Regions from separate parts of the Homo sapiens genome. Here all the other regions are linked to region 3. The links come from fine-mapping of genetic effects on gene expression. A gene starts in region 3. Each other region holds a variant in brackets. All regions are shown on one strand. Distances are between the middles of the regions.

Region 1 (2,687 bases), 90 kb after region 3:
ATCCACAACCCACCGTAACTCTCCCTGACAACCAGATAACATCCAGTCAGCTTAACACTGAACACTGAGGAAATGAAAAGGAATGTATACCCAAAACACATTAATTAAGTTTTAAACAAAAGGGAGATAACAGTTTTGTCAGGAAGCAGTAAACAAGCAGAGGACAAGCTACCTTCCACCTCTAAGAGGCTTTTATTGGGCCCAAAACTCCTCTGGGTGAACATCACCCTAAGTTACCATAGCACTCAACTACAATAACTCAAAATGGGCATAAACAGTCAGATGAATTAGAGCAACCCCCAGCAAATTTAAGCAGATGATAAGAGCTAACCTATGCCCCTATACATACCATTGTACCTAGCCTCCTGAATTTGATAGAAGACTGCAATCACAGCTCAGAAATTCACGTTAGCATTTCTTCACAAAATTAACAATACTCCAGAATAAATCTGAGTTTGTTAAAGAAGATTCAAGTGCAGAATGTGCCAAAATATATAAATGTATAAATATCATCACAATGAAACATTTTGAAACTTCTCTTCAGGGCACTGAAAAGGATCTACATAGGATCTACATCAAACAGACATAGTATAAGGGCTTTATGCTATAAGACCATATTTGTAGAACAAAATGAACCAGAATTGAAGTCATGTATGAAGTGCTGTTAGTTAATGTAAATGCTAGTTCTGACTGCTGCCAGGTCAAGCCAACTGATCATGTGATTTAAGAAGGCTCCAAATGTGTTCTTCCTTCAACCTTCTCTATTAGCAACATCAGCAACCCAGTCACACAAAGAACACATAGAGCCATTGTCTTTATCCTCAGCGTTTCCCTCTACCCCACCCTCCACACAAACACATTTTCAATCACTTGAGACTCTTACTCATTCTACCTCTGAAAAGCCCTTACTTCTGTCTCTCTCCATTCCCACTGCCCTACTTTTGGCCCCAAACAACTCTTTAGACTACAAACACTGCCTCTTGACTCATGTCCAAATCCTCCAAATCTTGACCAGATGGCTCAAACCCCTTCAGCACACTAGGTCAGATGTCCCTCGTGTATGTATCTCATTCTCCCAGAAAAAATCTATGGTTACCTCACCAGAGTTACCATATCACTATTTTATTTTATCTTATTTTATTTTACTTATTTTTTTTTAGAGATGGGGTCTTGCTATATTGCCCAGTCTGTAGTACAGTGGCTATTCACAGGCTCAATCCCACTACTGATGAGCACAAGAGTTTTGACCTGCTCCATTTCTGACCTGGGCCGGTTCACCTCTCCTTAGGCAACTAGGTGATCCCCCACTCCCCAGAGGTCACCATATCAATGCCAAACTTAGTGTGGACACCCAATCAGCATAGTGCACTGCATCCCAGAACTCCTCGACTCAAGCCATCCTCCCACCTCAGCCTCCCAAGTAGCTGGGATTATAGACACCCACGGCACTGAGCTAGTTTATTTCATTTTTAATGTAATCATTGTATACAATTATTTTATGAAAATATGGCTTACATATTGCAAAAGGTACAAATTTTAAGTGTACAGCTTAATTTTCACATGTGCACACCTGTAACCACCACCCAAATCAAGAT[A/T]TCAAACACTCCCAGCATCTCACCAGACTTGTAATCAATACTCGGGCACCTAAAGGTAACCACTATTATAGCTTCCATCATGATAGATTAATTTGCCTGTTTTTAAGCTTTATATAGACGGAATTATACAGTATGTGCTCTTTTGTGTAGTATTCCATTTTATGAATATGCCACAATTTATTTCTCTATTCTCCTGTGAATAGACATTTGGGCTGTTCCCATTTGAAGATTATTATGAATAAAGCTGCTATGCACATTCTTGTAAATATCTTTTTTGTGAACATGTGCACTCAGTTCTGTTGGGGATATGTCCAGAAGAGGAACGGCTGGGTCGCAGGATAGATGTATGTTTTATGTTAGCATGTACTGCTAAACGTTTTTCCAAAGTGGTTTTTACCACTTTCTAAATATCCGAATTATTTTAATAGTTATGCTTTTCTTTTTTTTTGATATGATATCTCATTCTTTCGCCTAGGCTGGAGTACAGTGGCACCATCACAGCTCACTGCAGCTGCAAACTACTGGGCTCAAGCAATCCTCCTGCCTCAGCTTTCTGATTAGCTGGGACTACAGGCGCATGCAGCCATGCCTGGCTGTTTTTTTTGGGGGGAAACATGGAGTTCTCACTATGATTCCCAGGCTGGTCTTGAACTCCTGGTGTCAAGCAATTCTCCCACCTTGGCCTCCCAAAGTGCTGGAATTACAGGCATGAACCACCGCACGCAGTCAGTTATGCTATTTTATTGTGCATTTTTGTATGTGCCCATTCCACAACCACACTTGGGCTCCTGAAACACAGGTCCCTATGTTGTCTTACCCCACACACCCAGTATATAGATTATAATTACAATTAAATATTGATATTACATACAAGCAAAAGAGTAAATGCATTCATAGAGCATGGTGGGACAGGGGCTTAGGAATGTGGTGTTTACTCAAAGGAAAATCTATCACCTCTCTTCTGGACCAAGTCCAGGGATGACACATGCCTACCCCAGCCCTGCCTACACTTCAGTAGTCATCCAAAGTGTGGTGGAATATTCACATCAGCTGCCTACATTCCCCAGTCCCCACTGAGTTGCTCAAAAGCCC
Region 2 (2,687 bases), 63 kb after region 3:
TGCATAAAGCAAATATAAAAAGACTGAAAGGTGGGGAGAAGAAGGCAGACTGGCTGGGGATCTTAGGACCCAAGGAAAGACATGGTGGTAAGTTGCCTTATGGATCCCAGACAAGAAGCTAAAGAGTTCAGCAATCCAGAAATGCAAATGAGTTCTGACTTTTAAATGCCTCAACAAAAGCCTGTTCTCACTAACCAAAAGACCAGGAAAGGGACAACCTAGCAAAACAGAAAACCTTTAGACAATAACCATTCTACTTCAACCAAACACCACAAACAAAACCTTACTCCCACACATACCAGCAAAGGCTGAGAGGGGAGCCTAGACTTCACCCTCAAGAGGCTATAACACAGTGGCTGCTATGGTTTGAATATTTGTGTCCCCTCCAAAATTCATATTGAAACAATCCCCATGGCAAAGTATTAAGAGATGGGACTTTTGAAAGGTAATTAAGCCCTAAGGGCTCTACTTTTTTTATCCCTTATAAAAGGGCCAGAGAGGTAGGTAGGCCCTTTTTGCTCTTCCATCTTTCTGCCATGTGAGGACACAGCATTTGTCCCTTCCATAGATGCAGCAATAAGATGCCATCTTGGAAGCACAGACGGACCTCTCTCTCGTGAGACATCAAACCTGCCAGCGCCTTGATCTTGGACTTTCAGCCTCCAGAACTGTGAAAAATAAATTTCTGTTCTCTACAAATTAGCCTGTTTGTGTTATTTTGTTATAGCTGCACAAGTGGACTAAGACATTGGCCCAATACCCACCAGGGTAGTATCACAGAAAGCCAATCAGGAAGCCAGGTTTCTATCCCTGCTGACTGACAGCAAGCCTCTGCCCCAACAGGGTCAGTGGAGGCCATGTGGGAGCTTGGATTTCCACCTCAGTCCAACAGTAATGAGAAAACCCTCTTCCTCTTTGCTATGTGGTATCAGAGAATGCCGAAAAAGGGGTCAAGACTTCAACCATCACCAAACAGCAATAAGCCAGTTGCACTGCATTGTCAGTGGAGACCATGTACAAAGGCAAAATTTCTACCCCTACTACTCAGCAGTAATGAGGAGTCTCCACCTCAGGTGTCAAAAGAGGCCAAGTGGGAAACTTAGATTTGTACCTCCACCTGGCAATAACAAAGCAGCTCCTCTCCTTCCCCTGCTGGACTTGTACCAGAAAAATCCAGGTAAAGCAGAAAACTTAAATAAGATCCAGAGTCTCATAACACAATATAAAAATATCTAAGTAACCCATGCCAACGCACATTATAATTAAACTTCTAAAAACTAAAGACAAAGAAAAAACATGAAAGCAGTCAGAGAAAAACCATACCCATAATGAAAAAAAAATTAGAGTGACAGTAAATTCCTCATCAGAAACTATAGAGGCCAAAAATAATTGGCACAATATTTTTCACGTGCTGAAAGAAAAGAACAGTCGACTCAGAATTGTGTACTCAGAAAAAATATCTTAGGGAATGAAAAAGAAATAAAGACATTCTCAGAGTCTCAAATGAAAGAAACCAAGAGAATTTGTCACCAGCAGGCCCATTCTAAAAGATTAGCTAAAGGAAGTTCTTCTAAATAGAAAGGAAACAATGAAAAAAGAAACTTTGGAGCATCAGACAGGAATAAAGAACATGATAAAGGAAAACATGGGTAAATACAGTGGGTCTTTCTTCCTCTCTTGA[G/A]TTCTCTAAATTATGCTTGTTAAATTAACTCAAGATGGATTAAAGACTTAAAAGTAAAACCCCAAACCATAAAAACCCTGGAGGACAACTTAGGCAATACCTAAGTTGTCATAGGCATGGGCAGAAATTTCATGGACATAGGCATGGGCAAAGATTTCATGATGAAGAAGCCAAAAGCAATTTCGACAAAAACAAAAATTGACAAATGGGATCTAATTACACTAAAGAGCTTCTGCAGAGCAAAAAACAAACAAACAAATTATCAAAAGCTAAACAGACAACCTACATAATGGGAGAAAATATCTGCAAACTATGCATCTAACAAATGTCTAATATTCCATATCTATAAGGAACTTAAACAAATTTACAAGCAGAAAACAAACAACCCTATTAAAGTGGGCAAGGGACATGAACAAACACTTTTCAAAAGAGGACATAAATGCAGCCAACAAGCATATGGAAAAAAACTCAACATCATTGATCATTAGAAAAATTCAAATCAAAACCATAATGAGATACCATCTCATACCAGTCAGAATGGCTTTTACTAAAAAGTCAAAAAATAACAGATGCTGGTGAGTTTACAGAGAAAAAGAGCACTTACACACTATTGGTGGGTGTATAAATTAGTTCAACCATTGTGAAAAACAGTGTGGCAATTCCTCAAAGACCTAAAAACAGCACTACCATTCTACTCAGCAATCCCACTACTGGTTATATACCCAACAGAATATAAGTCATTCTATCATAAAGACAAATCCATGTATATGTTCATTGCAGCACTGTTCACAATAACAAAGACATGGAATCAACTTTAATGCCCATCAATGGTAGACTGAATAAAGAAAATGTAGTATATATGCACCATGGAACACTATGCAGCCATAAAAAATAATGAGATCATGTCCTTTGCAGGAACATGGATGGAGCTGGAGGCCATTATTCTTAGCAAACTAACACAGAAACAGAAAACCAAATACCTCATGTTTTCACTTATAAGTGGGGG
Region 3 (2,687 bases):
AAATATTATCTAAGGGGTTGAGAGAGAAAGGAAAGTGAGGAAGAAAAGACAGACAGCTATTGCATGAAGAACGTGTGTGTTCCTAATTGAAGGAGACGGAAATTTTAGGCGGCAGGGAGAGGAAGGAATGGCACTAAAGCTAGGTACCAAGGCCCACAGGAAAGGTTTTCGGAGCTTGAACTTCTGACTATGCGCTTACACCAAGGACCACAGCGCTTTGAAAGATGTGCAATGCTTTACGCAGGACAGTTGGCTGTTACTTGGAGACCCTTGGGGAAGCTGTCAAAGCCCCCAGGACAAGTCCCTATTCCCCCCCTTCTTCGCTCTGCAAGGAGAGCGGCGTCCTGCACCAAGGAAGGAAAAAAAGTTTCTCTCCGCTCCAGACCCCACTTCACACAGTGGTGTGCAAGTGTGTTCGAGCATGAAGACAACAACGGGCCGGGTCCCGCAAAGAGGCAGAACCGAGTGTACCGTCCGATCCGGGAGACCCGGCCTGAGATTCCGGCAAGGTTTTCTTCCCCGGGCCCGGACTAGGATGTTGCGCGCAGCCAGACAACTTTTCACCGCCTGTTCTCGCCTGCGGAGGCACCTCCTGCCTGCCAACCCCAGGCGCCTTCCCACCCCAGCCTCCCAAGAGCCTGAGGGTGTGTCGGCATCTCAGGACATGCTCCAGCCGAGGTCCCTGTCGCAAACCAGAGTCCTAGAAAAGGAACTGGGCTAGAGCACAGGCGACCACAGACTCGCTGGGTAATCTTGGGCCAGTCTCTGAGCCTCAGTTTCCCCACTGGTAAATGAAAGATCGCAAAATGTCAAGTCCTGTCCAACTCTCCAGCTCTACGATTCCGAGTTAGATCTGGCTTTCAGGTCCTCTCCGCCCTCACCCGACCTGTCTGCCTTCCTCCTCCAGAGTGGGCTCCTTACCCACAGAGGCGGCCCGGGTCTCCACGCAGAGCCACAGGGCGACGGCCAGCAGCACCTTGCTCTGCATCCTGCACCTCGAGCCGGGCGAAATGCCCAGAACTCGGGAGCCGGTTCTTTCTCCCAGCGCCTGTCTAGAGAAGGAGGCGCGGAGGTGGAACTCGCGGCACCCCGCAGCGCAGGACAGTTGAGCGCACAGGGCTAGGGAGCCCGGGCGCCGACCGCGGCTGCAGGGGCGTCTGCGGGTGCCGGTAGGAGAGGATATCCAGGCTGCCAGACGGACTTTCTGCGGCGCGCAAGTGATGCCCGGCGCAGGCAGAGGAAACGCAGCGACCACACATTGACCGCTCTCCCGGGGTCCCGGGACTCAGTGCAGGGTGGGAGCTGGTGCCGAAACTCTAGAGCGCGGAGGCGGGGCCATGCGGGGCGGGGCCGGAGCGGAGGAGGGGCTCTCCCGTGCGGCCAGCCCCGCCCCTCACCCGGGTACCCGGCGGCGATCTCCAGCTCCCCAAGCCCATTTACATCTCCCCATTTCCCCACACAACTGGACTGCGCTGGGCCCCAAGTCGCCCAGGAGAGAACATCCCAGAGCAACAACTTTGTTTCTGGTGTAAATAAAAAGTACTCGGTAACGGGCGCTGAGCAACTCCAAGATTTAATCGCTTGCCGGTCCCCGAAATTTGGGGAGCATCACCAGGAGCGCTGCGAAGAGCAGCGCTCCCTCACCAGGCGCGTCAAAGTGCAGGACCCTCTTCGCCATCGCGCGCGTCTGAAGTGGCCGAGAATCTGCAGCAGTTTGGAGCCACAAGGGAGAAGCGGATACTCAGCCAAGTATGCCGGGTCGCAAGCTGGCAGCGACTCCTGCCAGTAGTTTTGGTTTTTGTATAAGGGTATTTTGTTTGGCCAGTATAATTGTAGTTTAAAAAGCTGAATCTGGTTGCTCTTAATCAGAAAACGCACTTGCCCAGTTCGCCAACATTCCCGCTATTTCCCAAAATATTTGGCGGCTCCAAGTTTGAAGTGACCTGCCTAGCCCCAAGAAGGCTTTTGTCCATCGTGCTCCCCAACGAAGAGCCCTAGTGAAAGTTTGGCCATGCCCCTTTTCAGAGCAGAGCTTCCAGCCAAGATATCCTTAGTCCCAGGGGAAGGAGGCCAGCTGCCAGCGTGCTTCAGTGGAGGAGCAATGAAGCAAAAGCACCTAGGACACTCTGTGACCAAATTGCACAACTGTCTCCACGTGTGTGGACTTCTTGTGGCAGCTGTTTGGAGGGGAACTCCAATTCCTTCCTGACCACATTCGTTCCTTCTGGTTTTCTGTCCATATCTCCCCACACCTGGGGAGTGACATCAAATGTCCCCTAACTTCATTAAATATGAATCTTCCAGATGCCTATGTCTTTTACCTCCCAGAGGTGCTTTTTAATGACAACCTAAAGGACCATTCTTCACCAAGATAAACACACAGAATTATTATATCTACACCTAATTCAAACTAGATTGATTGTATACAATTAATGTAACCTGTTACTTATCTTCATCTGTTTTTAAATATTTACTGTATTCACGCTTTTACTTTTCCAAGTTGACAGGTGAAATATTTTAATGCTGAAATATAATGAATGTATATGGCAAAAAAAAATTTTGGAAAAACACAAAAAGGCTTAGAGTGAAAAGACTTTTCTTTTGGCAGAGGCATTTTTATGTTTCCTTTTTTTTCCAAGCAGATTCTTAAACACAAGTATGTAGACATGTCACCCTTCTCTTCCCAC
Region 4 (2,687 bases), 86 kb after region 3:
AGTTCTGGCTCGGGCAATCAGGCAAAAGAAAGAAATAAAGGGTATTCAATTAGGAAAAGAGGAAGTCAAATTGTCCCTGTTTGCAGATGACATGATTGTATATTTAGAACACACCATTGTCTCAGCCCAAAATCTCCTTAAGCTGATAAGCAACTTCAGCAAAGTCTCAGGATACAAAATCAATGTGCAAAAATCATAAGCATTCCTATAAACCAATAACAGACAAATAGCCAAATCATGAGTGAACTCCCATTCACAATTGCTTCAAAGAGAATAAAATACCTAGGAATCCAACTTACAAGGGATGTGAAGGACCTCTTCCAGGAGAACTACAAACCACTGCTCAACGAAACAAAAGAGGACACAAACTAATGGAAGAACATTCCATGTTCATGGATAGGAAGAATCAACATCATGAAAATGGCCATACTGCCCAAGGTAATTTATAGATTCAATGCCATCCCCATCAAGCTACAAATGACTTTCTTCACAGAATTGGAAAACCCTACTTTAAATTTCATATGGAACCAAAAAAGAGCCTGCAATTGCCAAGACAATCCTAAGCCAAAAGAACAAAGCTGGAGGCATCATGCTACCTGACTTCAAACTATACTACAAGGCTACAGTAACCAAAACAGCATGGTACTGGTACCAAAACAGAGATATAGATCAATGGAACAGAACAGAGCCCTCAGAAATAATACCACACATCTACAACCATCTGATCTTTGACAAACCTGATAAAAACAAGAAATGGGGAAAGGATTCCCTGTTTAATAAATGGTGCTGGGAAAACTGGCTAGCCATATGTAGAAAGCTGAAACTGGATCCCTTCCTTCTTATAGAAAAATTAATTCAAGATAGATTAAAGACTTAAATGTCAGACTTAAATCCAGAAAACCCTAGAAGAAAATCTAGGCAATACCATTCAGGACATAGGCATGGGCAAGAACTTCATGACTAAAACACCAAAAACTATGGCAACAAAAGCCAAAATAGACAAATGGGATCTAATTAAACTAAAGAGCTTCTGCACAGCAAAAGAAACTACGATCAGAGTGAACAGGCAACCTACAGAATGGGAGAAAAGTTTCACAATCTACCCATCTGACGAAGGGCTAATATCCAGAATCTACAAAGAACTTAAACAAATTTACAAGAAAAAATCAAACAACCCCATCAAAAAGTGGGCAAAGGATATGAACAGATACTTCTCAAAAGAAGACATTTATGCAGCCAACAGACATATGAAAAAATGCTCATCATCACTGGTCATCAGAGAAATGCAAATCAAAACCACAATGAGATACCATCTCACACCAGTTAGAATGGCGATCATTAAAAAGTCAGGAAACAACAGGTGCCAGAGAGGATTTGGAGAAATAGGAACACTTTTACACTGTTGGTGGGACTGTAAACCAGTTCAACCATTGTGGCAGACAGTATGGCAATTCCTCAAGGATCTAGAACTAGAAATACCATTTGACCCAGCCATCCCATTACT[A/G]GGTTTTGATTTGCATTTCTCTGATGACCAGTGATGATGAGCATTTTTTCATATGTCTGTTGGCTGCATAAATGTCTTCTTTTGAGAAGTATCTGTTCATATCCTTTGCCCACTTTTTGATGGGGTTGTTTGATTTTTTCTTGTAAATTTGTTTAAGTTCTTTGTAGATTCTGGATATTAGCCCTTCGTCAGATGGGTAGATTGTGAAACTTTTCTCCCATTCTGTAGGTTGCCTGTTCACTCTGATCGTAGTTTCTTTTGCTGTGCAGAAGCTCTTTAGTTTAATTAGATCCCATTTGTCTATTTTGGGTATATACCCACAGGATTATAAATCATGCTACTATAAAGATACATGCACATGTATGTTTATTGTGGCACTATTCACAATAGCAAAGACTTGGAACCAACCCAAATGTCCATGAATGATAGACTGGATTAAGAAAATGTGGCATATATACACCATGGAATACCATGCAGCCATAAAAAGGGATGAGTTCATGTCCTTTGTCGGGACATGGATGAAGCTGGAAACCATCATTCTGAGCAAACTATCACAAGGACAGAAAACCAAACACCACATGTTCTCACTCATAGGTGGGAATTGAACAATGAGAACACTTGGACACCGGGTGGGGAACATCACACACAGGGGCCTGTCATAGGGTGCGGGGAGAGAGGAGGGATAGCATTAGGAGATATACTTAATGTAAATGACGAGTTAATGGGTGCAGCACACCAACATGACACATGTATACAAATGTAACAAACCTGAACGTTGTGCACATGTACACTAGAACTTAAAGTATAATAAAAAAATAAAAATAAAAAAACTTTAAAAAACTACTTAAAAAAAAGGAGATCCTTATCTTTTCTCTCTGCTGTCTTCCACTACGGACCCAAAGTTTTGAACAACTTTATTAAATAAAATGTACTTGTGAAATGATAGTTTATGTGATCCTAACATAAGAAAAGTATATTTTTTCTACCAGCCTTTTAAAAATAATTAACATAACTCAAAAGAAGACACATTACTATTTTCAAGAAACTAGTAGTATTAGAAATTATCCCTCCTAACCAGAAGTTTACAATCTCTTTGTAGAAAAACATAAATGAATGATCATACTCTAAGGTAGTATATATTAGGTATATGATATATGATACACACAAACCACATGTAGTTTTT

Alleles and levels. Positions count from the first base shown, and alleles are read on the strand shown. Sizes are in standard deviations (SD) of each study's normalised expression. Not every link is listed here.
As copies of A replace G in region 4, the expression in fibroblasts of the gene that starts at base 1,290 in region 3 goes up (large effect, 1.0 SD a copy in GTEx).

The links.
Region 1: its variant is fine-mapped to the expression of KDR in fibroblasts (GTEx, PIP above 0.99).
Region 2: its variant is fine-mapped to the expression of KDR in fibroblasts (GTEx, PIP above 0.99).
Region 4: its variant is fine-mapped to the expression of KDR in fibroblasts (GTEx, PIP above 0.99).

The regions. Positions count from the first base shown.
Region 1 is chr4:55,214,466-55,217,152 of GRCh38, forward strand. It overlaps the pseudogene RN7SL822P. Among named protein-coding and RNA genes, the nearest start is that of KDR, 90 kb to the left of the region's middle. The variant A/T (reference allele first, on the strand shown) is at 1,596.
Region 2 is chr4:55,187,769-55,190,455 of GRCh38, forward strand. No RefSeq gene overlaps it. Among named protein-coding and RNA genes, the nearest start is that of KDR, 64 kb to the left of the region's middle. The variant G/A (reference allele first, on the strand shown) is at 1,682.
Region 3 is chr4:55,124,306-55,126,992 of GRCh38, forward strand. KDR (kinase insert domain receptor) reads right to left here and starts at 1,290. Exons shown (of 30, transcript NM_002253.4): 1 at 922-1,290. The coding sequence starts at 988.
Region 4 is chr4:55,209,921-55,212,607 of GRCh38, forward strand. No RefSeq gene overlaps it. Among named protein-coding and RNA genes, the nearest start is that of KDR, 86 kb to the left of the region's middle. The variant A/G (reference allele first, on the strand shown) is at 1,505.